2 separate regions of the Homo sapiens genome follow, and region 1 is linked to region 2. The links come from fine-mapping of genetic effects on gene expression. A gene starts in region 2. The other region holds a variant in brackets. All regions are shown on one strand. Distances are from middle to middle. Region 1 holds the start of ZNF16 (zinc finger protein 16). Region 2 holds the start of ZFTRAF1 (zinc finger TRAF-type containing 1).

What was found.
Region 1: its variant is fine-mapped to the expression of ZFTRAF1 in caudate (GTEx, PIP above 0.99).

Annotation. Positions count from the first base shown.
Region 1 is chr8:144,942,295-144,956,898 of GRCh38, forward strand. It overlaps ZNF16 (zinc finger protein 16), which reads right to left and starts at 8,586. Exons shown (of 3, transcript NM_006958.3): 1 at 8,503-8,586; 2 at 3,717-3,921. The coding sequence starts at 3,912. RefSeq lists a silencer at 8,096-8,405 and an enhancer at 8,646-8,715. The variant CCCTATT/C (reference allele first, on the strand shown) is at 7,919.
Region 2 is chr8:144,453,845-144,468,832 of GRCh38, forward strand. It overlaps ZFTRAF1 (zinc finger TRAF-type containing 1), which reads right to left and starts at 9,027. Exons shown (of 4, transcript NM_001330618.2): 1 at 8,439-9,027. The coding sequence starts at 8,810. It overlaps TMEM276-ZFTRAF1 (TMEM276-ZFTRAF1 readthrough), which reads right to left and starts at 11,857. Exons shown (of 5, transcript NM_001408018.1): 1 at 11,727-11,857; 2 at 10,965-11,252. The coding sequence starts at 11,057. It overlaps TMEM276 (transmembrane protein 276), which reads right to left and starts at 11,648. Exons shown (of 3, transcript NM_032687.4): 1 at 11,509-11,648; 2 at 10,965-11,252; 3 at 9,981-10,768. The coding sequence starts at 11,057. The coding sequence ends at 10,283. KIFC2 (kinesin family member C2) reads left to right here and starts at 12,493. Exons shown (of 18, transcript NM_001369769.2): 1 at 12,493-12,674; 2 at 12,916-12,994; 3 at 13,115-13,266; 4 at 13,359-13,497; 5 at 13,641-13,786; 6 at 13,870-13,935; 7 at 14,015-14,143; 8 at 14,485-14,562; 9 at 14,692-14,806; 10 at 14,881-14,988. The coding sequence starts at 12,576. It also overlaps MIR10400. RefSeq lists enhancers at 8,598-9,275, 9,276-9,953, 10,048-10,661, 12,860-13,696, 13,387-13,486 and silencers at 8,940-9,239, 9,290-9,409, 11,367-11,596, 11,647-11,906, 11,977-12,106 and 3 more.

The DNA of each region.
Region 1 (14,604 bases), 490 kb after region 2:
TTTGAAGTGGAGTTTTGCTCTGTCACCCAGGCTGGAATGCAGTGGCACAATCTCATGCCTCTGCCTGAGTTCAACCTCTGCCTCCTGGGTTCAAGCAATTCTCCTGCTTCAGCCTCCTGAGTAGCTGGGATTACAGGTGCCCACCACCATGCCCAGCTAATTTTTGTATTTTTAGTAGAGACAGGGTTTCACCATGTTGGCCAGGCTGGTCTCGAACTCCTGACCTCAGGTGATCTGCCTGCCTTGGCCTCCCAAAGTGCTGGGATTACAGGTGTGAGCCACTGCGTCAAGCCCATTTTTAAGATATTTTCTTACTGATTACCATGATGATTGCAATGAACGTTCTAACATCCTAAAACAACTGATACCAGTTTAGTCTCAGTAACACAAAATCTCTGCTTCTCTACAGATGTTACCCCCCTTATGTTGTTGTCATCACAGATTACACCTTTATACATAGTGGGGTAAAAAACATAGACTTATAATGCAGACCTTTTATGCATTTGTTCTTTAGATCACTTAGGAAATATGTAATGGCAAAAACCACAATTAATTTTGCACCAACTTAATACAAAGTGTACTTAGAAACCAAAATATAGGGATACTAACTTTTATACTTACCTATGTAGTTACTTTTACTGGAGGTCTTTATTTTTGTATGGCTTTGAGTCCCTGTCTAGTGTTCTTTCATTTCAACCTTCAGGACTCCCTTTAAAAGCATTCCTTGTGGGGCAGTCTATTTGTAACAAGCTTCCTCAGCTTTTATCTACCTGGATATGTTTTAATTTCTCCTTCATTTTGAAGAATAATTTTGCCAGATAACAGAATTCTTAGTTGACAGGTTTTTTTCCCCCTCTTAGCAGTTTAACTAAGCCGTCCCACTGCCTTCTGACCTCCATGGGTTCTGATGAAAAACTGGCTAGAAATCTTACCCAGAACCCCTTGTTCAGGGATAGGTCTCCTCTCTTGCTGCTTTCAAGATTCCTTGTATTTCAACAATTTGATTAGAAAGAGACCTGGTGTGGATCTCTTTAAATAGACTCTACTCAGTTTGTTGAACTGCTTGTGTGTGTAGACATGTCTTTCATCACATTGGGGATACTCTCAGCCATTATTTCTTCAAATATTTTTTCCATCCCCTTCTCTATTCTTTTCCTTCTTGAACATCCCTACTATGCACGTTGGTCTACTTGATGGTGTCTCATGGTCCATTAAGTTCACTTTTCTTTTTTCTTTTTTTTTTGAGACAGAGTCTCACTCCATTACCCAGGCTGGAGTACAGTGGCACGATTTCGGCTCAATGCAACCTCCGCCTCCTGGGTTCAAGCGATTCTCCTGCCTCAGCCTCCAGAGTAGCTGGGACTACAGGCATGCATCACCACGCCTAGCTGATTTTTGTAGTTTTAGTAGAGACAGGGTTTCACCACGTTGGCCAAGATTCTCTCGATCTCCTGACCTCAAGTGATCTGCTTGCCTCGGCCTCCCAAAGTGCTGGGATGACAGGCGTGAGCCACAACGCCCAGCCATTAAGTTCACTTTTCTTAGATCTTTTTTCTCCTCAGACTGAATGATTTCAATTATCCTATCTTCAAGTTGCCGATTTTTCTGCCTGCTCAAATCTACTGCTGAAACCCTCTAGCAAAATTTCCATTTCATTTTTTAGTTCCAGACTTTCTATGTTTCTTTTACAATTTGTATTTCTTATTGATATTTTCATTTTGTTCACACATCATTTTCCTGGTTCTTTTAGTTCTCTATGGTTTTTTTTTTTCTTTTTTTCTTTTTTTTTTTCTTGAGACGGAGTCTCACTCTGTCACCCACGCTGGAGTGCAGTGGTGTGATCTCAGCTCACTGCAAGCTCCGCCTCCTGGGTTCATGCCATTCTCTTGCCTCAGTCTTCAGAGTAGCTGGGACTACAGGTGCCTGCCACCATGCCCAGCTAATTTTTTGTATTTTTAGTTGAGATGGGGTTTCACCTTGTTAGCCAGGATGGTCTTGATCTCCTGACCTCGTGATCCACCTGCCTCAGCCTCCCAAAGTGCTGGGATGACAGGCATGAGCCACCGTGGTGCTGGGTTACAGGCGTGAGCCACCGTGGTGCTGGGTTACAGGCGTGAGCCACCGTGGTGCTGGGTTACAGGCGTGAGCCACCGTGGTGCTGGGTTACAGGTGTGAGCCACCGTGGTGCTGGGTTACAGGTGTGAGCCACCATGCCCAGCCTAGTTCTCTATGGTTTCTTTCACCTCTCTGAGCATATTTGAGGCAGTTGATTTGAAGTTTTTGTCTACTTAAGTCCAATGTCTGTGCTTTCTCCAGGACACTTTTTGTCAGTTTACTTTTTTCCTTTGAATGGGACATATTTTTTTGCTTCGTTATATGCTTCATGATTTTTGCTTTGTTAAAAACTGCACAACTGAATATTAAAATGTGGTATCCCCCCTCCAGGCTTTGCTGTTTTTGATTGTTGAAGACTAGAGTCACATGTTCATTTAGTGACTTTTCCAAACTATTTTTGCAAAGACTATTCTTTGTCGAGTACAGTCACTGAAGTCTTTTTCTTTAGCTTGTGTTCAACCAGTGTTTTGACAGAGATTTTATCAAGAGAAAAACCAACACAAAACACTTCTCCCAGTCTTTGTGGATTGACTCTGTGTTGGGGTACTTTTTAAACGCTGTTTACAACTCTTTCTGAGTTGACTGCCTTCACTGAGCCTAGAGATTAGACAGAGTTCTTGAGAAAGCTTATGGTCTTAACAGGTCTTTTCTGAGCACACACCCAGTCCTGCGCATGCATGTGACTTCCTGGATTCCCCAAAATATATAGGTGCTTTTTTTTTTTTCAAATTTATGTATTTTTTTCTGAGACAGAGCCTCACTCCAGTTGCCCAGGCTAGAGTGCAGTGGCATGATCTTAGCTCACTGCAACCCTTGCCTACCAGGTTCAAGCAATTCTTGTGCTTCAGCCTTCCAAGTAGGTGGAATTACAGGTATGTGCCACCACACCTGGCTAATTTTTGTACTTTTAGTAGAGACAGGGTTTTACCATGTTAGCCATGCTTGTCTCGAACTCCTGGCCTCAAGCAATCCACCCACCTCGGCCTCCCAAAGTGCTGGGATTACAGGCGAGAGTGATCACACCCAGCCTTTCTTAATTTTTTAGTAGAGATAGGGTCTTGCCATGTTATACTGGCTGGTCCTGAACTCCTGGCCTCATACAATCCTCCTGCCTTGGCCTCTCAAAGTGCTCAGATTATAGGTATGAGCCACCACACCCGGGCCAAGGGTGCTTTTGAATGCCTCTATTTCCCCACAAGAAACTCCTCAGCTTTTCTTCCTAGGCTTTAGATGGCCAACTGTATGGGTAACCACAGTACAAAGCCCTGGACCAGAGTAGAGTCCTGAGGGGAGAGGGCTGCCACCAGCCTGGTTGTTGAATTGGGAAGGGGTCAGGAGTATAGGGCAAATCAAAGGACGCTGGTGGCCATCATGTCATACCTCTTCGTGTCAAGTGGGGAAATCACAGTTCTGCTCAAGGTGCCAGGGGCCAGGCTAGGTTAACTTCCTTGCTGACATCCAGCCTTGGCTCCTTGAGTCAGAGTACCCCGTCACCCTCCCTACCTGTGATGACACAGATGCCTCCTAGGGGTAAGCACAGGGTTCCATGGACATCACTTCCCCAGAATAAGGGCACCAGCGGAGAACTGTTCTTAAAGTACCTGGCTGCTGATAGTGAGGGCAGATGGCTTCCAGCTCAGTATCACTACAGCAGGGGGTACCACAGGCTGCAGATCCAGGGTGGGTCACAGCAGGAGCATCTCTCACACGGGCCTGGGCTGCAGGGGTCCAGGGGGATGGTCCTGGAACTGAGAGCTCCATCTCTGCCTCCTCACGGCGAGTTCTGAGGCTGGGCATGACAAGGACCTGAAAACCGGCAAGAACACAGGTGAGTCTACAGACAGGCTAGCTCTAGGGATTCATCCTCCCATCAGGCCGGGGTCTCTTCCTCCACCCCTGCAGCCCAAGACCTGAAGAGGGCCTGGTGCTGCCAGGTCTCAGGGGCTGATGCTGTGTTTCCTGATCTTGGACCTAAAAAGAGGGAGTCAGCCATGGAGACACAGACTCAAAAGCCAGGGCCACAGTACAAAGGGGCAAGATGCTGACCCTAAGGTAAAGTGGGTCATGGTGCCCAGACCTGCCATGATAGGAGGGCAGCCCCCACAGGGTCTGTGTCCTGCTGTGGGGCCTGTGTACTGCTGTGGGGCCTGTACCCTGCTGTGGGCCTGTGTCCTGCTGTGGGTCTGTATCCTGCTGTTGGGCTTGTGTCCTGCTGTTGGGCCTGTGTCCTGCTGTTGGGCCTGTGTCCTACTGTGGGCCTGTACCCTACTGTGGGCCATACCCTGCTGTGGGCCCGTGTCCTGCTGTGGGGCCCGTACCCTGCTGTGGGCCATACCCTTCTGTGGGCCTGTACCCTGCTGTGGGCCTGTGTCCTGCTGTGGGCCTGTGTCCTGCTGTGGGGCTGTGTCCTGCTGTGGGCCTGTATCCTGCTGTTGGGCCTGTGTCCTGCTGTTGGGCTTGTGTCCTGCTGTGGGGCCTGTGTCCTGCTGTGGGGCCTGTACCCTGCTGTGGGCCATACCCTTCTGTGGGCCTGTACCCTGCTGTGGGCCTGTGTCCTGCTGTGGGCCTGTGTCCTGCTGTGGGGCTGTGTCCTGCTGTGGGCCTGTATCCTGCTGTTGGGCCTGTGTCCTGCTGTTGGGCCTGTGTCCTGCTGTGGGCCTGTACCCTACTGTGGGCCATACCCTGCTGTGGGCCTGTGTCCTGCTGTGGGGCCTGTACCCTGCTGTGGGCCATACCCTTCTGTGGGCCTGTACCCTGCTGTGGGCCTGTGTCCTGCTGTGGGCCTGTGTCCTGCTGTTGGGCTTGTGTCCTGCTGTTGGGCTTGTGTCCTGCTGTGGGGCCTGTGTCCTGCTGTGGGGCCTGTACCCTGCTGTGGGGCCTGTACCCTGCTGCGGGCCTGTACCCTGCTGCGGGCCTGTATCCTGCTGTGGGCCTGTGTCCTGTTGTGGGGCCTGTATCCTGCTGTGGGCCTGTATCCTGCTGTGGGCCTGTATCCTGCTGTGACCACTCTTCTCACTCCTTGTTGCTGACATTCACAATGCTCTGAAGCTGGGCAGGCCAGACCCACCTAGAGTGGGAGAACAGCAGCTCCAAAGGGTGAACAGCCAGGGGCAGCCTGTGCTGCAGCCCCACATGTCATCATTATGTGTCAACGCCTACCAAATCCTAGTGGTCAGTTCTATCTGAGTTGCACCATCCTGGCAGCACCCACAGCAGGTGTTCCCATCTTTACTTGCACCAGCTACTCCCTCCTAGCCTCTCATTCCCCATTTCATGTTGGCACCCCAGTGTGCACTTCTGCACTGCCACCAACTTCCTTGGTGATTATGTCCAGTCTTGAGGCATCAACACCCTTGTTAAGATTCACAAACTTGGGCTCATCTCCAGTCCTAACTACTCCCTGTGAGCAGGAGAGAGGACACTCCCACGTGGCGGCATGACGGGCTCCTCACATGTTACTGATTCCCCCACCCCTCACTGTGTAAATGCACCATACCCTGCCCGGGTGCCCACTGGGAGCACTGACATACCTCAGCCCTTCACTCACATTGTACTGACATTGACTCTTCTGTCCTTCATGAGCACCAGCTGAGAATGAGGGTGTGGTCAAGGGGATCTGCAAAGGGGATGTGAAGAAAGGTGGCAGAAGGATGGTGCAGGGAGTCAACGTGATGGTACGTGTCACCCATAGGCCATGTGGGGAAGAAAGAAGGGCTGGGTGGTGCTCCTGGACTCAGATCACCATCAAGGAGAAGGCAAGGAGATATGAACAGAGCTCACAGGGATGGTTACTATGGACCAATGATAAGGGGCCTTGGCTGCCAGATGAAGGTGAAACACTGGCCACATTTCTGTGTCAGGAGAGACAAAACTAATATCTCAAGATTAACTTGGCAGGGTGCTCAGAGGAATGGTGGGAGATGAGATTCAAAGCAGGTACAGCACTAAGGTGCCTACCACGTGGCAGCAGAAATGGAGGAGACATGGGCGATGGGGGTGACAAGGCCCTCTGTGACTGCATCTGCCTGCCCTTACAGTGCAGATGCCCAGTTTCCTCGAGGGAAACCTCTCCCCATCCAAGTGGTGATGTAATAATCTGCAATATTTATTTAGTTCATTTTATTTAAAAATACTTTAAATTCTCATTGTTTCTGAATAGGGGCATAGTCACCTCAAAATTTAAAAGGTAAAAAGGATTTATGGTGAAAAATTCCCCAAACATCCACACAGTTTCCCTTGTTTCTAGTGTACCGTTCCAGATTAATCTAGGTTTACACAGCAAATATATAAACATATGTTTGCCTTTTAATGATAAATTACACCCAACTATGCTATGGCTTCACACCTTATTTTTCTCACTTCATTATGTGTGGGATCTTGCTTACCAGGACACAGAATAAATGCCCCCTCTCACCCAGGTCCATATCCTAATCCCTGGAACTTGTGCTTATGTTACACTACATACCAAAAAGGACTTTGCAAAGGGAATTAAGGTTATGGACGTGAATTACCCTGGTGGACCCAATCTAATCAAATGAGCCCTTAAAAGCCTGAGAAAGATCTGAGGGCCACATGGAAGGACCTCGGAGAGCTAAGGATCACTCAGGCTGGCAGCCAGCACTTCTGAGGACCAACCTCAAGAAAAACAGATTCGGCCAACAGCCTGAACAAGCTTGGAAGTGGAGTCTCCTGGCTAGAGGCTAAGCCTGCTCTTTAGGAGTCACACAACTGGAAGAGCCAGCCACCACCCTCCCATAGCAAGCAGCCACAGGATGGGCCCTGGCCGATCCCTCAGCACCTTCCCCCTTGGGGAAGAACTGGCCCAAACTCTCCTCCCTTCCCAGAGTACCTCCTCCACACGCAGAGCGACTCCACTACTGACTGGGCCTCCCAGGCAGGACATCTGAGGCTGAGCGAAACCCCCTTTCTCCCCCAGCTCTGCTCAGTGCATCTCTGACTTCTCATGGAACACCAGGAACCACGAACCCACCCTTGTCTCCCATGCGCTGGGAACCACCCCATCGCACTGCTGCCCCATGTAGGGAAAAGAAAGAAAGATCAGACTGTTACTGTGTCTGTGTAGAAAAGGAAGACATAAGAAATTCCATTTTGACCTGTACCTTGAACAATTGCTTTGCTGAGATGCTGTTAATTTGTAACTTTGCCCCAGCCACTTTGCCACAACTTTGAGCTCACAAAAACATGTGTTGTATGGAATCAAGGTTTAAGGGATCTAGGGCTGTGCAGGATGTGCCTTGTTAACAAAATGTTTACAAGCAGATGCTTGGTAAAAGTCATCGCCATTCTCCAGTCTCAATAAACCAGGGGCACAATGCTCTGCGATAAGCCACAGGGACTTCTGCCTTGGAAAGCCGGGTATTGTCCAAGATTTGTCCCCATGTGATAGTCTGAAATATGGCCTCATGGGATGAGAAAGACCTGACCGTCCCCCAGCCCAACGCCCGTAAAGGGTCTGTGTTGAGGTGGATTGGTAAAAGAGAAAAGCCTCTTGCAGTTGAGATAGAGGAAGGCCACTCTCTCCTGCCTGCCCCTGGGAACTGAATGTCTCGGTATAAAACCCGATTGTACATTTGTTCAATTCTGAGACAGGAGAAAAACTGCCCTATGGTGAGAGGTGAGACATGTTGGCAGCAATGCTGCCTTGTTATTCTTTACTCCACTGAGATGTTTGGGTGGAGAGAAACAAATCTGGCCTACGTGCCCATCCAGGCATAGTACCTCCCCTTAAACTTAATTATGGCACAGATTCTTTTGCTCACATGCTTTTTTTTGCTGACCTTCT[CCCTATT/C]ATCACCCTGCTCTCCTACTGCATTCCTCTTGCTGAGATAATGAAAATAATAATCAATAAAAACTAAGAGAACTCAGAGACCGGTGCCGGTGCAGGTCCTTAGTGTGCCGAGTGCCGGTCTCCTGGGCCCACTGTTGTTTCTCTACACTTTGTCTTATTTCTTTTCTCAGTCTCTCGTCCCACCTGATGAGATATCCCACAGGTGTGGAAGGGCAGGCCACCCCTTCACCCCGTCGCTCCGCCCGAGCTCGAATGGTGGCACCGACAGGCGGGAACGCCACCAGCCTGTGGGCGGAGTCCTGGCTCGGCCCCTCGCGGCGACCTTACCCCGGGGTCTCCCCGGAGACCCCCTACCGGAGGCAGCCCCCAGAGGCTCTGACCTCCAGCCCAGGCCGAGCTGCCCCCGCCCCGCCCCCCCCGCGCTCCCACAACCCCCCGCGCGGCTCCGCCCCCGCCCGGGGTCCCCAGCTCGCTGCCCGCCCCGTCTGAGCCCTGAGAGGCCCCTGGGCCCCCCAACCACGGGGGCATCAGGGACAACCAGACGCAGGGTCCCAGGCGTGGAGCTTCGCGGAACTAACCTCAACGGGTCGCGCTTGGAAAGGAGGCAGCACCGTGGCACGAAGACGTCTCAGCCAACGCCGGCTGACCCCCGGAAGTCCCGCCCCGAATTCCGGCCCGCCGCTCGTTCTATCTGGGGCAGCGTAGCCTCTCTAGATGGCGGGAGGCCGGGGCGACTCTGTGGTTCAGCCCCAGACCTGGTCCCACTAGCCCTGAGGCCAGAGACCCTTCTGTTCCCCTTTTTTTCAGAGTTGACCCGTGCACTGAACAAGGCGGCAACTGAAGAAAAGGGGACACTAATAGAAATGCAGAGATAATGAGATATACTCGTGTAGTGGGAGATTTTAATATACAGGCCCCCAGAATCGGAACAGACGGTAGTTTGATAAAAACCTAAGGATACGTTTTTTGGAAGAACTGAATCATTCAATCAGTAAGTGATTAGATAGATAAATGGAAGAATTCAGATTCCTTCAGTAGATAACATGTTTTCGTGAGATTGTGCATGGATCGTTTCTAATACGGAAATGAATTGTACACTTGGACATAAAGAATACAAATAAGGCTGGGTGCGGTGGCCCACGCCTGTAATTCCAGCACTTGGGAGGCCGAGGCGGGCGGATGGCTTGAGGCTAGGAGTTTGAGACCAGCCTGGGCAATATAGGGAGACTCCATCTCTACAAAAAATACAAAAGTTAGCCAGGTGTGATGGTGTGCGCCTGTAGTCCCAGCTACTCAGGAGGCTGAGGTGGGCGGATTGCTTGAGCCGGGGAATGTGCGGCTGCAGTGAGCCGGGATCACATGTTGCACTGATGAGAGAGTGAGACCCTGTCTCAAAAAAAAGAAACAAACAACAACAACCAAAAAAAACCTCACAAATATTTTGACGTTCATTTTGCAGGCAGATTAAACTATCAAAATCAGGAATACATAATAAAAAATGCATGACAAACTCTATTGGAATTTAAGAAACACTGTCTAGATAACCCCCCCCCCTTTTTTTTTTAGTTCAGGCTGAGGTGCTCTCAGTTGGAGATGAGGAACTTATTGGAAGCTGGAGTAAAGGTCACTCTTGCTATGCTTTAGCAAAGAGATTGGTGACATTTTGGCCCTACCCTAGAGATCTGTGGAACTTTGAGCTTGAGAGAGATGATTTAGGGCATCTGGCAGAAGAAATTTCTAAGCAGCAAAGCATTCAAGATGTGACATACCTTTTTCTGAAAGTGTACAGTCATATGCATTCACAAAGAGATGGCCTGAAATTGGAACTTATGTTTATTTTTTTATTTATTTTTAATTTTTTTATTTCCATAGGTTTTTAAATTTTTATTTCCATAGGTGGTGGTGTTTGGTTACATGAGTAAGTTCTTTAGTGGTGATTTGTGAGATTTTGGTGCACCCGTCACCTGGGCGGTATGCCTTGAACCCAATTTGTAGTCTTTTATCCTTCACGCCCTTCCTGCACTTTCCCCCTGAGTCCCAGTCCCCAAAGTCCATTGTATCCTTCTTATGCATTTGCATCCTCATAGCTTAGCTACCTCTCACGAGTGAGGACATACGATGTTTGGTTTTCCATTCCTGAGTTACTTCACTGAGAATAATAGTCTCCAATCCCATCCAGGTTGCTGTGAATGCCATTAATTCACTCCTTTTTATGGCTGAGTAGTATTCCATCATATATATATGTATGATGGAATACTACTCTCTATATATGTATAGATATATACATATATACACACATATATACACACACACATATATATATAAATATATATATGCTACAGTTTGTTTATCCACTCGTTGATTGATGGGCATTTGGGCTGCTTCCACATTTTTGCAGTTGTGAATTGTGCTGCCATAAACGTGCATATACAAGTATCTTTTTCGTATAATGACTTCTTTTCCTCTGGGTAGATACCCAGTAGTGGGATTGCTGGACGAAATGGTATTTCTTGGTAGTTCTACTTTTAGTTCTTTAAGGATTCTCCACACTGTTTTCCATAGTGGTTGTACTAGTTTACATTCCCACAAGCAGTGTGGAAGTATTCCCTTTTCACCACATCCACGCCAACATCTATTATTTTTTGATTTTTGATTATGGCCATTCTTGTGGGAGTAAGGTGGTATTGTTTTGTGGTTTTGATTTGCATTTCCCTGATCATTAGTGATGTTGAGCATTTTTTCATGTTTGTTGGCCATTTGTATATCTTGTTTTGAGAATTGTCTGTTCATGTCCTTAGTGCACCCCCCACTTTTTTTTTTTTTTTTTTTTGAGATGGAGTTTCACTCTTGTTGCCCAGGTTGGAGTGCAATGGTGTGATCTTGGCTCACTGCAACCTCTGCCTCCTGAGTTCAAGCAATTCTCCTGCCTCAGCCTCCTGAGTAGTTGGGATTACAGGCATGCGCCACCATGCCGGGCTAATTTTGTATTTTTAGTAGAGATGGGGTTTCTCCATGTTGATCAGGCTGGTCTCAAACTCCCAACTTCAGGTGATCCACCAGCCTCGGCCTCCCAAAGTGCTGGGATTACAGGAGTGAGCCACCACGCCCGGCTGTTAGCCCCCTTTTTGATGGGATTATTTTTTCGTGCTAATTTGTTTGAGTTCCTTGTAGATTCTGCATATTAGTCCTTTGTTGGATGTATAGATTGTGAAGATTTTCTCTCACTCTGTGGGTTGTCTGTTTACTTTGCTGACTCTTCCTTTTGCTGTGCAAAAGGTCTTTAGTTAAGTCCCACCTATTTATCTTTGTTTTTGTTGCATTTGCTTTTGGGTTCTTGGTCATGAAATCTTCGCCTAGGCCAATGTCTAGAAGGGTTTTTCTGATGTTATCTTGTAGAATTTTTATATTTTCAGGTCATAGATTTAAGTCCTTGATCCATCTTGAGTTGATTTTTATAACGTGAAAGATGAGGATCCAGGATTATTCTCCTACATGTGGCTTGCCAACTATCCCAGGGCTATTTGTTGAATAGGGTGTTCTTTCCCCACTTTATGTTTTTGTATGCTTTGTTGAAGGTTAGTCGGCTGTAAGTATTTGAGTTTATTTCTGGGTTCTCTATTCTGTTCCATTGGTCTATGTGCCTATTTTTATAGCAGTACCATGCTGTTCTGGTGACTATGGCCTTATAGTGTAGTTTGTTTCATGTGCATCCATGTGAAGAGACCACCAAACAGGTTTTGTGTGAGCATTATTTCACCTGGGTGCAGGTGGGCTGAGTCTGAAATGAGAGTCAGTGAAGGGAGATAGGGGTGGGGCCATTTTATAAGATTTGGGTAGGTAAAAGAAAATTACAGTCAAAGGGGGTTGTTCTCTGGTGGGCAGGAGTGGGGGTCACAAGGTACTCAGTGGGGGAGCTTTTGAGCCAGGATGAGCCAGGAGAAGGAATTTCACAAGACAATGTCATCAGTTAAGGCAGGAACAGGCCATTTTCACTTCTTTTGTGGTGGAATCTCATCAGTTAAGGCAGGAACCAGCCATCTGGATGTGTACGTGCAGGTCACAGGGGATATGATAGCTTAGCTTGGGCTCAGAGGCCTGACATTCTGGTCTTCTTATATTAATAAGAAAAATAAAGTGAAATAGTGGTAAAGTGTTGGGATGGTGAAAATTTTTGGGGGTGGTATAGAGAGATAATGGGTGATGTTTTTCAGGGCTGCTTTGAGCGGGATTAGGGGCAGCGTGGGAACCTAGAATGGGAGAGATTAAGCTGAAGGAAGATTTTGTGGTAAGGGATGATATTGTGGGGTTATTAGAAGAAACATTTATCATGTAGAATTATTGGTGATGGCCTGGATATGGTTTTATATGAATTGAAAAAGTAAATGGAATAAGAGAAGGAGAAAAACAGGTATAAAAGGTCTAAGAATTGGGAGGACCCAGGACATCTAATTAGAGAGTGCCTAAGGAGATTCAGCATAGTCCTGCTAGCAAAGATTATTTATTTACTTCAAGAGTTTAGAGTGGCAGTTTGGGGATAGCGCCAGGAGATATCAGCTGTGATGGCTTGCAGAAACAGTGTAAACCAGCTGTGTAAACAAGAGGAGGGCATGTATGAGTAGTTGAGAATGGTGAATAGGAGTATGACTAGATAGAAGATAGTAGGGATGACAAGTTTTTTTTGGGGCACAGTCTAAGTTGGTCTGCTGTCTGGAATGAGACCGGGGCCTAATAAAAAGGAGCATCTCTACAGGAGCTCAAATGGGCTGTACCTTGTAGCATTCTGAGGACAGGTCTGACTTCTGAGAAGGGAAAGTGGTAAAAGTGTTGTCCAGTCCTTTTTAAGTTGGTGGCTGAGCTTGGTGAGGTGTGTTTTTAAAAGACCTTTAGTCAGTTCTACTTTTCTTGAAGATGGAGGACCATAAGGGATATAAAGGTTTCACTGAATACTAAGAGCCTGAAAAACTGCTTGGCTGATTTGAGTAATAAAGGCTTGTCTGTTATCAGACTGTATAGAGGTGGGAAGGCTAAACTGAGGAATTATGTCTGACAGAAGGGAAGAAATGACTGCGGTGGCCTGCTCAGACTGTGTAGGAAAGGCCTCTACCTATCCAGTGAAACTGTCTACCTAGACTAAGAGGTATTTTAGTTATCTGACTCAGGGCATGTTGAGTAAAGCTAATTTGCCAGTCCTGGATGGGGGCAAATCCTCAAGCTTGATGTGTAGGGAAGGGAGGGGGCCTGAATAATCCCTGAGGAGTAGTAGAATAGCAGATGGAACACTGAGAAGTTATTTCCTTGAGGATAGATTTCCACGATGGAAAGGAAATGAGAGGTTCTAAGAGGTGGGCTAGTGGCTTGTACTATAGCATAGCCTGCCTTTGCTGGTGTGTGGTGATTAGGCCTGGTGGAACTGCCATCAATAAATCAAGTGTGATCAGGGTGAGGAACAGGAAAGAAGGAAATATGGGGAAATGGGGTGAATGTCAAGTGGATCAGAGAGATACAGTTGTGGGGGTCAGGTGTGGTATCAGGAATAATGTGGGAGGCCGGATTGAAGTCCGGGCCAGAAACAATGGTAATTGTGGGACTTAACAAAGAGTGAGTACAGCTGAAGGAGCCAGGGAGCAGAAAGTATATGCATCAGGTATGAGGAAGAAAATAGATTTTGGAAGTTATGAGAAATGTAGAGAGTGAGTTGAGCATAGTTTGTGATTTTAAGGGCCTCTAAAAGTATTCGGGTGGCAGCAGCCACTGCACAGAGACATAATGGCCAGCTTAAAACAGTAAGGTCAAGTTGTTTGGACAAAAAGGCTACAGGACGCGATCCTGGTCCTTGTGTAAGAATTCTGACTGCACAGCCCTGCACTTCGGCTGTGTGTAATGAAAAGGGTTGGGATGAGTCAGGGAGAGCTAGAGTGGGGGCAGTCTCTAAAGCTGTCTTCAAGGAATGGAAAGAGGAGTGGGGAAAGGATTTAGGATCTATGGGGTCAGCTAGGTTTCCTTTTGTGAGTTTATAGAATGGTCTTGTTAGGATGGCAAAACCAGGTATCCAAAGGTGAAAGTATCTAAACATGCCCAGGAAGGAAAAGAGTTGTTGTTTTGTAGAAGGGGTAGGGGTTTGAGAGATTAGTGGGACATGATCGGCAGGGAGAGCACGTGTGTTTTTATGAAGAATTATGCCAAGGTAGGTAACGGATGGAGAAGAAATTTGAGCTTTGGAGGGGGATACCTGATATCCATTGGAGAATAAATGCTGAAGGAGCAGAAGTGTGTCTTGTTGAGAAGATTCACAGGAGGGGCTACAAAGAAGAAGGTCATCAATATATTGAATAAGGTGAGAAGTGGAGGGGTGGAAAGAAAGTAAATCGTGAGAAAGAGCTTGGCTGAAGTAATGAGGGCTGTCCCTGAAACCTTGCAGCAGCACAGCCCAGGTAAGCTGCTGGGACCGATGATGGGTGTCAGGGTCAGTCCAGGTGAAAGCAAAGAGAGGCTTGGATGAGGGGTGCAGGGGAATAGTGAAAAAAACATCTTTAAGATCAAGAATGGAATAGTGAGTTGTGGAGGAAGGTATTGAGGACAAAAGAGTGTATGGGTTGGGCACTGCAGGTGGATAGACAAAACAATTTGGTTGATAAGGCATAGATCCTGAACTAACTTATAAGGCTTGTCTGGTTTTAGGA
Region 2 (14,988 bases):
TTGGCCATCACTGTCAGGTGGGGAGCGGATGCAGCTCCCACACTGGGGCAGGCATGCTCTCTGGGCCTTCAGAAAGGCCATTTATCCTGGGTTGAGAGGACTTGGCTCAGGGTGAGCCCAGGTGAGAGGAGGCAGCTGCCCCCTCGTCCAGGGAGGTTGGCTACCTGCAGAGACCTCCTCAGAGCTGGGAGGCAGGAGCCAAGCTGGCCCAGGACAAGGACAAGGGCAGGTAGGCACACAGGGAGTGCCTGGGGAGCAGAAATGGGGGCTCTGAGTGGGTGCCGAGCCTGCTGGGGTAACCGGGGCTGGCAGGAGCAGGGCACCTCCCGCTGGGCTCCCTGCCTGTGTGGGCTCCCAGCACGCCCAGTGGCCTATCCTGGCTCTCACTCCCTCAACATAAGCCTCGAGCGTCCACTTGGTGCCACTGAGAGACACATGGCAAGCTGCGGTCCCAGCCCGTGGGGGCTCACAGCATGGGAGGTGGGAAGCCCAGACCAGAACCAAGAGGTCCAAGAACAAACAAAGCCTTTTGTACCTGAGCAGACACAGTTCCCACAGCCCTGGCTGGAGTGGGGTGTGTGGGCTGAGGCATTCCAGGGCCAGCCAGGAGTGACAGGGATGTGATGTGCCTCCCACCCAAAGACTCTTAGAGCTCGCTGAGGGGAGCAGTCAGCAGAGTTGCTCCTGTCCTGATGCCTCTCCAGCAGCCGGCCCAGGCTTGCCAGCCATGCAAACCTCCAGAAAGCCACTGGGCTACAGGCTTCCTTTGGGACCTGGGACCCTCTTGAGAATGGGATGTGGTGCAGCAGAGCAGCCTGCCCAGGCCCAGCCTCTCTACAAGGTGTGTGTCAGGGAGGGGACACTCACAGGGCCCTGCCTGGTGGCGCTGGGAGGCCGGCCCTGCCTGGTGGTGCTGGGAGGCCAGCCCTGCACACGTGGGGCCCTGGGAAGTCTGAGCTGCCATCCTACTGCTTCAGCTGCCTGTGCACCCCAAGCTAAGGAGCTGTCAGACGCTGGGGCTGTTCACTCAGCACCTGTGGACTAGGCCTAAGGCCTGCTGAGTCAAAGGACCTACATGTGGAGAACCGACAGTGAGGACAAAGCCCTCTTTCATGGAATCCACATCCACATGAACACCACCCGTTACCTGCATTCAATCCTCAAGTTCTCAGTTTGGTTAAAAATTAAAATTACAGGCGGTGGCTCATGCCTGTAATCCCAGCACTTTGGAAGGCCGAGGCAGGCAGGTCACCTGAGGTTAGGAGTTCATGACCAGCCTGGCCAACATGGTGAAACCCCATCTCTACTAAAAATACAAAAATTAGCCATGCATGGTGGCGAGCGCCTGTAATCTCAGCTTCTCAGGAGGCTGAGGCAGGAGAATGGCTCGAACCCGGGAGGCGGAGGTTGCAGTGAGCCGAAATGGTGCCACTACACTCCAGCCTGGGAGACAGAGTGAGACTCTATCTCATGAATACATAAATAAATAAAAATTAAAACATACACAGTTGCCTGAGGCAGGGAGTGAGACTGGCTCTGACTGGGTTGGGGACAAGCTGAGACCTGCCCCCAGGAGAAGGTGTGAAAATCCGCCAGCCAAGTCCAGGGGTCAGTGGTGGGTGGACTACAGGCAGGAGGGGGCACAGATGCTATTGAAGCAGCTGTCCTGTGGGAGGCACAGACCAAGGGCCCACACCACTGTCCTCTCACAGCCCCCCGCCCCCCGGAGGTATGCCACTCCACGTGGCCAGCTCTAAACACCTCCTGGTGAGACTGCCGGGGGCCTTGGACGAGGTTCTGGGTCCAGCTCTGCACGTACAGTGGCCTTAGCACAGGCAAAACAGCACTCTTCTTGGCTGTGGCCCGACCCCCAAGGGAGTTCCAGGCAGGGCTGGAGCATCTAATGCCACCCACCAAGGCCACCTGGCCTCTCTTCCTGGCTCTGCATAGCCCAGGAAGATTCGAGGTGGGGTCCTAGACCCTCCTAAGGGAGCACTGAGGCTGCCAAGCACATCACCACTTACCTCCCAGCACTGCGGGCCTCTCCCCCGAAAGCCACCCCAGCTCCTGGGCCGGCCCCTGGCCACAGGCCTCATTCCTTTGGGGCCTCCAGATCCCAGCATGGGCTCAGTCAATTCCATACCATGAGGAGGCAGCAGTGACCCTGCCCTCCTCTGGCTCTCTCTGGGCCTCCAAGAGGACCTGCAAGCTCCGAGGAGACACAGGGCCATTGCCCCTTCAGCCCCAATAGCTCCATTCAAGTCAGAACACAGGGAGTCCCTAGAGTGCCCTGGACTACACTGGCCCAGTAGCCAAGGGACACAGCCACACTCACCCCCAGACCCTCCCCACTGGTCAAAGGACATCTCTAGGTGCATGGCCCGGTCCCGACCAACACTCAGCCCAGGAGGTCTGTCCACAGCAGGACGGTCCCTGGTCACATGCTCCGGAGCCTCCCCACCATCTGGGTCCCCTCAGCCCCTGCGCAAGACTCTGGCTCTACACCAAGGCCAGGCCACAGGCAGCTGCATCCTTGGCCCTGGCAGCATCTGGCCAGATGCACTTGATTCTGACTTGTGCCCAACACCCAACAGAAGCTGGGCCCTGGAGGGCGCCGCACAGTCCAGGGGATGGCGTGGGCCAAGGCCCCCAAGAGCCCGGGCACCTTCCAGAGCAGCTGCTGTGGCACCCAGGCCAGGCCACCTCTCCCCACCAGCCAGGAAGACCCCAAGGGAGGGGAGAGGAGGGGATCCACAACCCCCCACGACCAAGAATGACGCCATGGGGGATGACATCATGGGCGAGACATCACAGAGGATGATGTCAGAGGGGTGACATCGTGGGAAATTGACATCACATGGGGAATGACATCATGGGGGAGACATCACGGGAATGATATCACGGGATGATGTCACATGAATGACATCACAGGGGGGACATCATGGGAGACTGGCATCACATGGGGGGATGACATCACCGGGGGATGACATCACAGGGGCATGACATTGCAGGGGAATTGCATCATGGGGGGTGACATCACGGAATGACATCACAGAGATGACATCACACTGGCATCATGAGGGAATGACATCACAGGGGATGACATTACGGGGATGACATCAAAGGGAGTATTGACATTACAGGGGATGACATTGTGGGAAATTGACATCATGGGGGACTGACATCATGGGGGGATGGCATCATGGGGGGAATGACACCATGGGGATGACATTAAAAGAGGTATTGACATCACAGAGGTGATACCACAGGGGATGACATCATGTGGTGACAGCACGGGAATGACGTCACATGTATGACATCACAGGGGAATGATGTCATGGGGGAATGACATCACGGGGGAATGACATCACAGGGCCTCCTGGGCCCTCCTAGGGCAGATGTGGGCTTGAAGCCACAGTGCTGGGCTCAGACGCCAGCCCACAGATCCCCAGTAATATGACCTTGGGCTCCCCTCTTGGGGCCTCAGTTTCCTCATGTGCACAGGTGATGAGTATAGGACCAGCTTCATTCTGTGCTGATGAGGTGGGATGGGACAGGGTGGCACTGCCCCACACCCAACAGGCAGACAGGAAATATCACCACCTTGGGCAGCCATGGCAGAGCCCCTGGGGCTGCCAACCCCAGGAGCCAGACCCCAGGCCCCTCTGCAGATGCTGATACACACAGGTGGCCCAGAAATGGCCATTTGCACCTGCATCCTCAGGACAGCACCCAGCCCTCCCCCCTGCTGGCTACAGGCAGCTCACGTGACCCCCATGCAGACCCAGGGTCTCCACCTGAGCTACTTCTTCCCTGGGGTTAAAGGGGAGCTAGATGGGCGGAACAGGCTCAAGGAGCCCTGACCCCATCCCCTGGCTGAGGGCCCCCACGATTTCCTGGTGGTCCCAAGGTCTCTATGGTCAGCTGACCTTGTAGGACCCCTTTCACACCTGGACTGCATGGTTCTCTCAGACCCTGGGGACCTCCTGTTTGCCACTGGAGGATGGCACAGTGCCCAGGCCCATGGGAGCAGTGCCCTCGCTCACCCAGGGGTCAGGGACCCACAGGCCCTTGACAGAGGTCGTCAGAGCCAAAATGCAGCCAAAGGGCTTCCCTGTGGCACAAACCCCAAAAGCGCTGCTCAGCCAGTTGGAGGTCCCCCTTCCTCTGCCATCTGCATGCAGGCAAGGCCTCACCAGGGCCAGTGGTGCTTCAGGGCACACCCCATGCACCCCGCGTGCTCGGCCCCTAACCTCCCGAATCAAACATGGGTCTGAGAGGGACTGGCACGTTGTCCAAGGCCGCACAGCTGTTAAGCATGAAGCCAGGACTCGAACCCTCCACCCAGGCTGGATTTGAAGTCCCTCACCTGCTACTGCTGTCAGACCTCAAACGGTGGCCAATCAATCCCCAGAGTCGGGCCCACATTCAGAACAAGGCTGCTTAGATCTAAAAGTAACTCAAATGATAACCACCACAGAAAACAAAAATTCCAACTAGCCAGAGATTCCAGAACATCTTCCTTGCTCCTGTGTTTTAGATACCTAAGCAGACGTATTTACAAAGATGTTTTCTGCCACTTTCCTCACCTCAAAGAACGAGTCAGCTGCAGTCCTGTACTGCTGCCCAGGAGACTGGGGAAGAGGGGCCCGAAGCTCCTTGGACATGTGGATGGTGACTCCACCCCCCCAGGACTGCACACTGTTGGCCTGGTTGGGGGTGTGGGGCTCGGGCAGAGAGGAGCCATCTCTGCTTCCTGGGCTGTTATCAATGGACTGTCAACATGTGGCATAGAGACATGGGCGCTACAGGCGGGAGGGCCACGGCACACACCAACCCACCCACAGAACAGAGTGGACACACCCTGGTCAGATGGGGCAGGAGGGGATCCTTGTAGCAAGGAGAGAACAAAGTCTCAAAGTGGGGGCGCTGCCTCTGCCGGGCCCAAGAGGTGGGCAGGGGCAGGGAGAGGACACCTCAGGCAGGAGAGCATGGGAATGGCAGGGCACTGTGCAGGGCCGAGTTAGAGGGAGCGGCTGGACCACATCTGTGAGAGGCCCCTGCCCGGCACTTACACCCGAGTGAGCCCGTTTTTGCCTTAAGAATGCCCCATGAGGGGTGGGAACAATGCGCAGTCCCTTCCTCCAGGTGCCAGCACCAAGGCCCAGGGCCTCATCTGACAGCAGCAGGAAGGGTCAGGGCCAGGTCTGTCTTACGCAGCATCACACTGGGCCTCGTCTGAAGGGCCAAAATGGAGGGAGAGAAGTCAGGGATGAGGCTGCGGCTGCAACGTCCCGGGCACCGCTGAGGCTGTCTCTTCCCAGAGGAGGTGCCCCATGGGCAGAGGTGCCAACAGGCCACACTGCCCTCGGGCCGCAGAGCAGGGAGCCGGCAGGAACGACCTGACCACCTGCGCGGCCTGGTCAGGCCAGAAGCTCCTGCACAGGTGTAACTGCTGCCCCACCAGCCCTCCTGCCACCCACCTGAGACTCCAGAAGGTGGCTGCACACCTTGTCAGGCCAGTCCCCCAGAACATATCTAACACCCACACAGAGAACATAAAAGCTGAGTCTTGCTGTACTGGCTGCAGCCCCAACCTGACGTGAGGCAGGACTCGGCGGTGGCGGAAACCTTTTGCATGAGGGCCTCAGTCTGACACCCAAGCAGGTTTCCCAGCCTGTGAGGCATCATCGTACGGGCACAGGCCCATGGGTCAGCTGGCCCTGCAGGCCCAAAGGCTCAGACCTGGGGCACCACCCGAGGCTTCCCTGCCAGCACTGGTGGCATCTGGTATCTGGATGACAAGCTCTCGAGTTACTGAGGACCCAGCCAATTCCAGAGGCCCATGGAGTTGTCCCCCACAGCCCCAGTGCCAGGGAGAACACACAAAGCTCAGCATGGCCACTCCCCTCTTCTCACCAGAGTCAGGGACTGTCTAAGTCAGCCCCCAGCTTGGCTGGTGCCCACCCTGAGCCATGTGTTCTGCTGGGGTCAGGAAAAGCGTTCTAGCAGGAACAGAGGGTGGAACCTGCTGCATTCCTGACACTGGCTGGCTCGAGACAGCCAATCAACGTGGTCACCAAGGAAAGCTAGTAGAATATGGTAGACTGAACCCAAGCTGGGGTGATGGCCAGCATGGGCCCAACCAGGGACACGCAGAAGGCAGCATGTGGGGGCCCACACCATCTGTGCCCAGATTCTCCAGGGAGCAGAGCAGGCCAGAGCCCAGGTCTCCAGGTCTGTGTTGACCTTCCAGGGGCACCACTCACAGCCGAGAGCCACCCGCCGGAGGTGTTCTTCGCAGCATTCAGGGAGGCCTGTGCCCACAGCACTCCTCGCTCAGCTGCTCTGTTCCCAGGGAAGTCACTGAACAGAGCCCCCAGGCCAGGGAGGGCCACCAGCCAGGGCAGCCCCAGCGCCTTCGGTCTCCATTACACCTGTTCAGCTCCCTGCCTCTGGCCGCCCAGAGCAGAACTCCACTCTGCACAGTGCAGGCCGGTTTGAACCAGCTAGGCTCAGAGGCCTGGTCACCAGGAGCTCCGGTCAGAAGCAGAGCCATCACTCTGTGCCGGGCCAGTCTAGATGGGGGATGCAGTGCACCAGGGACCAGTACCATGTGGCCCATCACCACCAGGTCCAGCTACAGCTCCAGCCCACCCACCAATGGGGAGACAAGGAGACTTCCCTGTTCCCCCGTGGCCTCACACCATTGGCTTGGCTTGTTGGAGTCTCCCTCGAGATCCAAGAAAAAGTTCTGGCCAAGCGCAGTGGCTCATGCCTGTAATCTCAGCACTTCAGAAGGCCGAGGCAGGCGGATCACCCAACGTCAGGAGTTCGAGACCAGCCTGGCCAACATGGCGAAACCCCGTCTCTACTAAAAAATACAAAAACAGCCGGGCATGGTGGCAGGCGCCTGTAATCCCAGCTACTCGGGAGGCTGAGGTAGGGAGAATTGCTTGAACTCGGGAGGCGGAGGTTGCAGTGAGCAGAGATCGTGGCACTTCACTCCAGCCTGGGTGACAGAGTGAGACTCCGTCTCAAAAAAAAGGAGAGTTCTTCCGCCTGGGAGGATCGAAGGTTGTGAGCCAGGAAAAAGGAGCTGGAGAGTGGGCACATCTTGGAAGCTGAGGCACTGCCAAAGCCAAGGAGTAACTGCTAACTCTGGGAGCCAGTGGCTCTGAAAAGTGCTCCCCTAGCTGGCCCTGGTGCCTGACACCCAGGAGGGTGGGTTAGAGCCAGTGCCCTCTCCCCACCCAGGCACACTGGGGTCCTCCCGACAAGGTCATGCCACAGCAAGAAGGACTTGGAGATCCAGAGTTTGGAGAAATGGCAACCTAGACTAGCCCTACACCACCTGCTACAAAAGTAGCTCCTCATCCAGGCCCCCAATTCAAACACAAGCAGGGAAACAAGGCCCCATTAGCTACTTCCAGCTCCTGTAAGTGTAAAGAAAGCTGACAGAGAACCTGCTTCATTTCTCACAGGGACTGGGGAGTTGAAAGAGAGGGAAAGACACAGGGAAGGTGGGGACACTGTACTCTGCCTCTGGGTGTCAACCAGTTTGTCCCTGCTGCTACCTGGGAAAGGGCATGTCAAACCCACCTGGGCCAGGTACCCTAACAGCCCTAGGCTGCTTAAGGGCTGAGTCCCACTGCCATGCGGATGTGAAGATGGGGGAGGAGGGGTGGGCCGGCTCCTGGAGCACTGGCTGCCTAGGAAGCCTGGCCTGGCCTGGGTGAGGTGGGCAGGAGCCTAGCGTGGGGCATGGCAAGTCCAGTTGGATGTGGGGTTTGGCTGGGACTGGAGAAGGTACCCAAACTGTGGGGCTTGTTGCAAATGGTTCATCCCGACAAACAGCAATCCCCTCTCCTTACTGTTCTTCAGGATGAACTGGAAATGGACCAAGAGAAAGGATTCTTCCACCCAGGAGGGTAGAAAAGGAGGCGTCCATAGGATGTTCAGGAGTGGAGGGACAAACTCGGGGGTGTGGCTGCCGGAAGAATGGGGAAGGAGCTCTCGAGCACAGGACTCTGAGCCCAGGGAGCTTGGGACCGGGTGGGTTGCGGGGAGCAGTTGCGGGCTAAGGATCAGTTTGAGGCTGTGGGTTGGGAGAGTGTTCAGGGGACCGTGGGGAAGTCTAGAAAAAAGAAGGGAGAGGTAAGCGGAAGACAAGCGATTCAGATCGGGAAGTACCGTGGATCAGAAAACAGAAAAGGGGGGTCCCGAGCGGAAAATAAAGCCCTGAGAGAAAGACAACGAGGAGCTTCGGAGCAGCCGCTGGAGCCCCGCTGGGCGAGGAAGTGGCTGTAAGGGCCAGAGAGGGTTCCCGGCCGCCGGGCCCCGCAGGCCTGGCCTCCGAGGAGACGCGGATCCTGGGGCCCCGCGGCGGGGGCTGCAGCCCCGGGCTGGGCCGGGTCGGGGTCGGCCGGCGGCCCTACCTGGTACACGGAGGCCTTGGGCAGGTCCAGGCACACGGTGCAGCACAGCACCGAGTAGAGCCGCTCCTCCAGTTTCCCGCTGCCGGCCGCCGCCGCCGCCGCCGCCGCCTCGGCCGCCTCGGCTGCCCGCAGCCGCTTCTTGGGCGGCGCGTCGGGGTCGCCGGCCGCCTCCTGCAGCTGTAGCTGCCGGGCGCCCGCCAAGCCCGCCTCGTCCGGGAGCCCAGGCCCCGCCGCCTCGCCCAGAGCCGCCGCCGCCGCCTGCCCGGCGGCCGCCCCGGGCCCGGCTCCGACCCCGACCCCGACCCCGGCCGGCACGGAGCCCGCGGGCCCCGCGGCCGGGCCGCCCCCGCCGGCCTCCTCGGCGCCGGACATAGCGGCCGGCCGGCCCGGCGGGCGGATGCCGGCGCGCTCCCCCGACTAGAAGTTAGGGGCGCCGCGCGCTCCCGCCGCTCTCCTGCCGCCGCCGCCGCGAACCCGCAGCCCCGCTCCCTGCGCCGCCGCCTCAGTGGGCCCGGCCCGCGCGTAGCCCCACAGCCGCCGCGGCCACCGACCCCGGCACGGCCGCCATCTTTGTTTTCGCTGTGCGCTTCCCCCCGCCCCGCCGCCACCACCCCCTCGTCTTCCCCGTCACGTGAGCCCCACGCGGGGCCAATGGGAGCGCCGCTTGGGGCAAGAAAGCGCAGGGACTAGAGCCAATGGGAGAGCGAGGGCCCCCGAAGGCCCGCCCCTGCAGAAGGTGGGCGGGGAGGGGGCGCGGCCTGCGAGAGTCGCGGAGGGACTCGCACCTGGGGGCAGGGAGGCCCACGCGAGCTGTGGCGCCGGCGCGGCACCCACGCTCCACGAGCCAGTGGCGGCCGCCGACCCCTACGGCGGGGTGTGCCTGTGTCTCTGTCCCCCAAGACTCAGGCTTGTGTTAGGGGCTCTCGCCCCCTTCCCCGCAGGGGAAGGACACAAGTGAAAAATCCCGCCGGCCACCCCTCTCTGTCGGGTGCGGGACCCCTTAGGTCTCCACAGGAGCAAGCGGAGAGACTTCCAGGAGAGGGGACTCCAGACCCCTAACCCACCGGAATCTAATCCTCTGCTCGTCCGAACCCCCTCTAACCCTGGGGTTGGAGACTGAAGGGGTCCACTGAGGAAAACGAAGGTATTAGGGAATAGGGCTGGCTTCCACAGGCCGGAGGTACACAGGAGGGCGAATCAGCTCTGGGAAGGATGTGCGTTTCTCGAAACGCCTGTGGTACAGCCCTCCCCTGCCTCCACCCTACTCTTCAGTTCTTGAAGGTCACTGCCCCAGAGGGCCACCTGCCAGGCCAGGCCAGGATATCTGGAACTCCACCATGTCCCTGGAGAGTAAGGGCCCAGGGCTATGTCTTCTCAGCCCAGGGGTCTTCCTGACAATAGTCAAAAGGAGGCCGGGCTGCATGAGACCCCATCCTAGTTCCAGCACATACCCTGTCAGGGTAACTGACTACTGTCCTGAGGGGCCTTAGGAAGCTCACTGAAAGATCCCTCAATCCCTCTCAAAAATGGGCAGTTTTCATATTCCTGCAAAATTCCTAAGATTTATTGGAGACTAGGCCTCTTCTCTGGATCCACAACCGTGTCCAGCCCAGAATCAGGACCCCCAAACGTGTCTGGGACCCTGTCCCTTTCATTCTGGTCTAGACAAGTCCCCACACGTGGCCAAAGGACAGCACCCAGACTCTGCCCCTGACCAGTCAATGTGCAGCAAACCCACTTCAGTAGGCAGAAGAGTCTACCCCTAGGGAGAAGGCGCCAGGAGCAGGCAGGTGGGAGGGAAAGTGTTCGGCAGGGCAGAAACCCTGCCTGGCTGTATCCAACTGTCACTCCCACTGGAGGCGCTGTGTATGCAGGGCCCGGCAGTAAGCCCAGCTGCCTACAGCCAAGGCCCAGCGACAGACATCCTCCTTCGGTAGCAGCAGCAGCCTGTCCTCCTCCAGCCGGCTCAGGAGGCCTGCCACACCCAGCATCGCCCCCCCCCACATCCCATAAGTGTTGGCCGTGAAGACAGCTACAATGAGGATGGTCACTGCGACCACCAACAGCATTGCCTGACCAGCCACAGAGCGGCCCTCAGGGCCGAGGTGGCCGCCAGCCACTGCCAGCACCATGCCTCCTCCCAGGAGCAGGTTGGCAGAGGAGCGGTCCCCATTCACCCAGTGGAAATCGAAGGCCAGAAGGGGAAGGCCGATGACGGTGGCCACCCAGGCTCCAGCAAGGCAGTCTTCGTGTGTGCTCAGCCCTGGGGCCAGCGTGGTGGTGGCAGCCAAGACCTGGAGCAGGAAGCCAGCAGCAGCCCCTCGACTTGCCTGTCAACACAGGGAAGGGAGAACACGTGGGAAAAAGAGGCCGGGGTCACCCTTTTAAACAGGAAAGGGTTTGGGGCTTCCATGGAGACCTGGTCTTAGACGCACTTCCCACCAACCTCTCTCTAATTCAGGAAACTAGGTCCTTGGGGTTTGGGAGGTATGGGGATGCGCCCCTGCTCAGCCCCAGTGTACTCACCTCGGCTGTGCTCACGGCTGCGTGCAGAGACACCACTCCCAGCACCAGATGGGACAGGGCTGTGCTCCACTCGGCCCCCGGCTTGGGGGCCATGGCACCTCAGGCGGCAGTATGTACGAGGACACAGATAGGAGATACTCAACTTTGGAGAGGAAGGAAGCGCAGAAGCCAGCGACCTGGAGCCCTACGCGCGGCACTCTAGTAAGCCCAGGTTCCAGGTCCCCATTACTGGATGTTAGGAGAAGTTCAGTCCTAGACTTTCCGGATCCCTGAGGCCACTGCACACACCTGTGGAGAAGAAGAACCTAATTCAGCCGGGAAACGGGGGAAAACGACTCAGGGTCTAAGCTGGGGGGAACGTCAGCCCTGGGGCCCTGGAGCCCAAGTGGGAGTGCGGGCCTGGGGAAGAGAGAGCGGCGAGGCGCTGCAGGCCCACGCGGCGGCCTCGGCCTGCTCCCTGCGTTCCGGGAGGCGTTGTCCTGGGAACCCGGGTCCAGGAGGAGCGACGGCGCAGGACTCCGGGAGGCCAGCCGTGCGCAGTTACCGGGCTGCGCGGTCCCAACGCAGCGGCGAGCGGGAGGCCCGAGCCTGCGCAACGCACCGCCCACCGCCGTCGGCCCTGCCTCCTCTGCCGTGCCCCCAGTTGCGGGAGCGAGCGCGGTCGGGAACCTCCACCAGCGAGAGGAGCGGAGGCTAGAGCGGCCGGGCGGGGCTAGAGCGGCTGGGGGGGGAGGGTCGAGGCCTGGGGGAGAGGGTCGAGACCTGGGGGGGGCCGGTTGGAGGCCGTAGGAGCGGGTGGGGTCGGGAGGAGCTCGGGGACCAGAAAACGCTCTGTTTGGGTGGGTGCGTGCGTGGGCATAGTGGTTTGGAAGGAGCGTGATGAGGGGAGAAGGGCCGGGGCGGGGCTGCGAGGGGCGGGGTCTGGGCGGGGCTGCGAGGGGCGGGGGGTCTGGGCGGGGCTGAGGGAGATAAGGTTTAGGCGGGGCTGAGAGCGGCGGGTCTGAGAGGGAGGGGGCCTGGGTGGGGCGGGGCCTGGGCGAGGATGCGATGGGGGGGTCTGGGCGTGGCTGCGAGGGGCGGGGCCTGGGCGGGGCTGCGAGGAGAGGGGTCTGGGCGAGACTGAGAGGGACCGAGAGGGGAGGAGCCTGGGCGAGGCTGCAAGGAACGGGGTTTGGGCGGGGCTGCGAGGAGGGGGGGTCTGGGCGGGGCTGAGATGGGCGGGGCTGAGATGGGCGGGGCTGTAGGGAGAGGAAGGAGAACCCCGGCGTGTTGAAGGCTCCGCGAAACCGGAGCGGTGGGGGACTACGCGGAGGGTGGGAGGGATTCCGAGAGGAGGGTCGCGGGAGCCGTGGGCGCTCTCAGCCCGGTGTCCGCGGTGTAGGGGTTGGGGCGCGCCGGGCGGCGCCGTGAGAAACGGCGGGTCTCCAGGTGCGGCCGCGGGCACCTGTTTCTAGTACCCCCGTCCCCGCGCTCGCCTTCCAGCCGTGGGAGCCGGGCCGTGGGGGCGGCCGTCGCGAGCATGCGCACCGGCACTGCGGCGGGCGGGCGCCGAGTCTGGGCGCGGGGACGCGGGGCGGCGCGAAGCGGGGCCCTCTGCCGCCCCGCGCTCCCATGTACGCCTTTTACTCGTTGCTCATCTACATCTTCTACAGCCTCTTCCGCAGGGATGGTGGCGCCGCGGCGGCCGCGGAGCCCGGGGACCCCGCCCAGGTGAGCGGGGCTGGCCGTGCAGCCCGTCGTCTCCCGCCGCCTGCCCCACCCCCACGCCGAGGTTCCCGGGGCGGGGGCGGGCACGGGGCGCGGGGCGACGGGGCCGTGCCGAGGACCCTCGGCTCGGCCCCGATGCTGGAAGCGTAGACTTCGGCCCCAATCCTCCGGCCCGGTTCGCGGAGGGAAGGGGCCAGCAGGCTGCCTGCCCCCCTCCTCAGGGGCGCCCCTGCCCCCTCCCTAGAGAGCCCGCAAGCCCCGGGGTCGCCGGCGCCCAGACCTGCCCGCGCCAGAGCTGTGGACCGAGCTGACCGGCCTGGCCGGTAGGTGCGGGCTGGGAGTCCCGCGGTGCGAGGGCGGTGCCGGGACCTCCCAGGGAGGGGCGGAGGCCTGGCTCAAGCACGTGACCCGAAATGTCTCCCGCCCTCCTCCCTGACCGGCAGCCAGCTCCGAGCCTGAGGATGGGTCGGAAGGCGCAGCCGAGGGCCGCGCGGCCGCGGTGTCCCTGGAAGAGGCCCTACTGCGCCTCGCCGAGTTCCTCTCCGTCCAGCTGGGGGCGGAAGAGAGCTGCGGGGGCCCGGCGGACCTGGGCCAGGTGAGCGCGGCGGAGGGGGCTGCTGGCAGGTACCACCTGCCCCGGCCTTCCTGGCTTTCACAGCCCTGCTCGGATTCTTGTCTCCTTCGCAGTCTGGCGAGGTCCCCTCACTGTTGACAGTGACCAGTCAGCTCTTGGCCCTTCTGGCATGGCTTCGAAGCCCCAGGGGGAGGCAGGCCCTGCTCCAGGGGACTCAGCCAGCCCCTCGGGTCCGGCCCCCCTCTCCAGATGGTGAGTAAAGGACAGTAAGTTGAAGAAGAACTCTGGAGGGAGCAAATCCCGGTAGAACCTGGGCGGCCTGGAGTTCGGGGTCATGTTCCGGAAGATTTGGACTAGAGACCTCTTCAGTGCTAACTGGGCCCACCCTACTCCAGGATCCACATCCCAAGAAGAAAGCCCTTCCCACTTCACCGCAGTCCCAGGCGAGCCACTGGGGGATGAGACCCAGGGACAGCAGCCCCTCCAGTTGGAGGAGGATCAGAGGGCGTGGCAGCGGCTGGAGCAGCTCATCCTGGGACAGGTGAGGTCCCTGGAGCCAGAAGGGATTGCCGGCTGGGACGCCAGAAAAAGGAGGTCCACCCTGTCTCTCTTACTTCTCCCCAGCTGGAGGAGCTGAAGCAGCAGCTGGAACAGCAGGAGGAGGAGTTGGGTCGACTGCGCCTGGGCGTGGTGAGGCTGCAGGGAGACCTGGCAGGGCCGGGCATGGAGGGGGTGCTTCAGGTGAGTGCCGAGGTTTCCTCTCCACCAGGGGGCGACGGACTCAGAGAAAAGGGTTCAGCATCTGACTCTGGAGAACGAGGCCCTGAAGCAGAGCCTGAGTCTCATGCGGGACCTCCTGCTGCACTGGGGCCCCGGGCCCCCCATCAGGGCTCCGCAGGTACTCTGCTCCCGAGCTGCAGCCGTTCCTGCAGCCTGGGGCTCTTGCACACCTGGCATGCAGCCACAGGGCCCGAGCCTCCTCAGGACCTCCCGGGATGGTCTGTGTAGGGCAGCCCCATCAGGGAGGCTGATGCCAATGGGAAGACCCCCCTCTCCGTGGCCCCTCTGAGTGGCTGACCCCAGGAGAGCAGAGGGACTGTGGGAAGGAGGTCTGCGTGGAGCTGGGAGGCATGGGTTCACAGCCAGCTCTGCCCACCTCTTGACTTGACTTTCCCATCTGTGAAATGGTACCACAGACCGTCCCTCTCTGAGTCCCTCCTGGCCCCCACCCTCCCGCAGGAGGAGGCAGAGGCATTGCTAGAGCTCCAGGGCCGGCTTCAGGAGGCCCAAGACACCACAGAAGCCCTCCGAGCCCAGGTGGGCATGGGGCCCAGGGATCCATGGCTCAGGGGTGAGGCGGGCTGGGGTTTTGGGAGGGGCTTATCTGAGGCAGGGCCTGGTAAGTGCCTGTTTCCTCAGTGACAGGGGTGGGGTTGGGCGGGGCAGCTGGGGGTGCAGGAGGTGCAGCTGCAGGGCCTTCAAGGGGCCCTCCAGCAGCTCCAGCAGGAGACGGAGCAGAACTGCAGGCGTGAGCTACAGCAGATGCATGGGCAGCTGGCAGGTAAGGGTTGGGGTTGGGGCTCATGGGAGGCCCTGGAGGCTGGGCCTTCCCTTCCAACAGACTTCCCTCTCCAGGACTTCGGGCACGGATGGCCAGCCTGCGTCAGGGCTGCGGGGACCTCCGAGGTTTGGTCAGCACCTTTACCCAGAGCTGTCAGGGTTCGCTGAGTGAGGCCCGGGGCC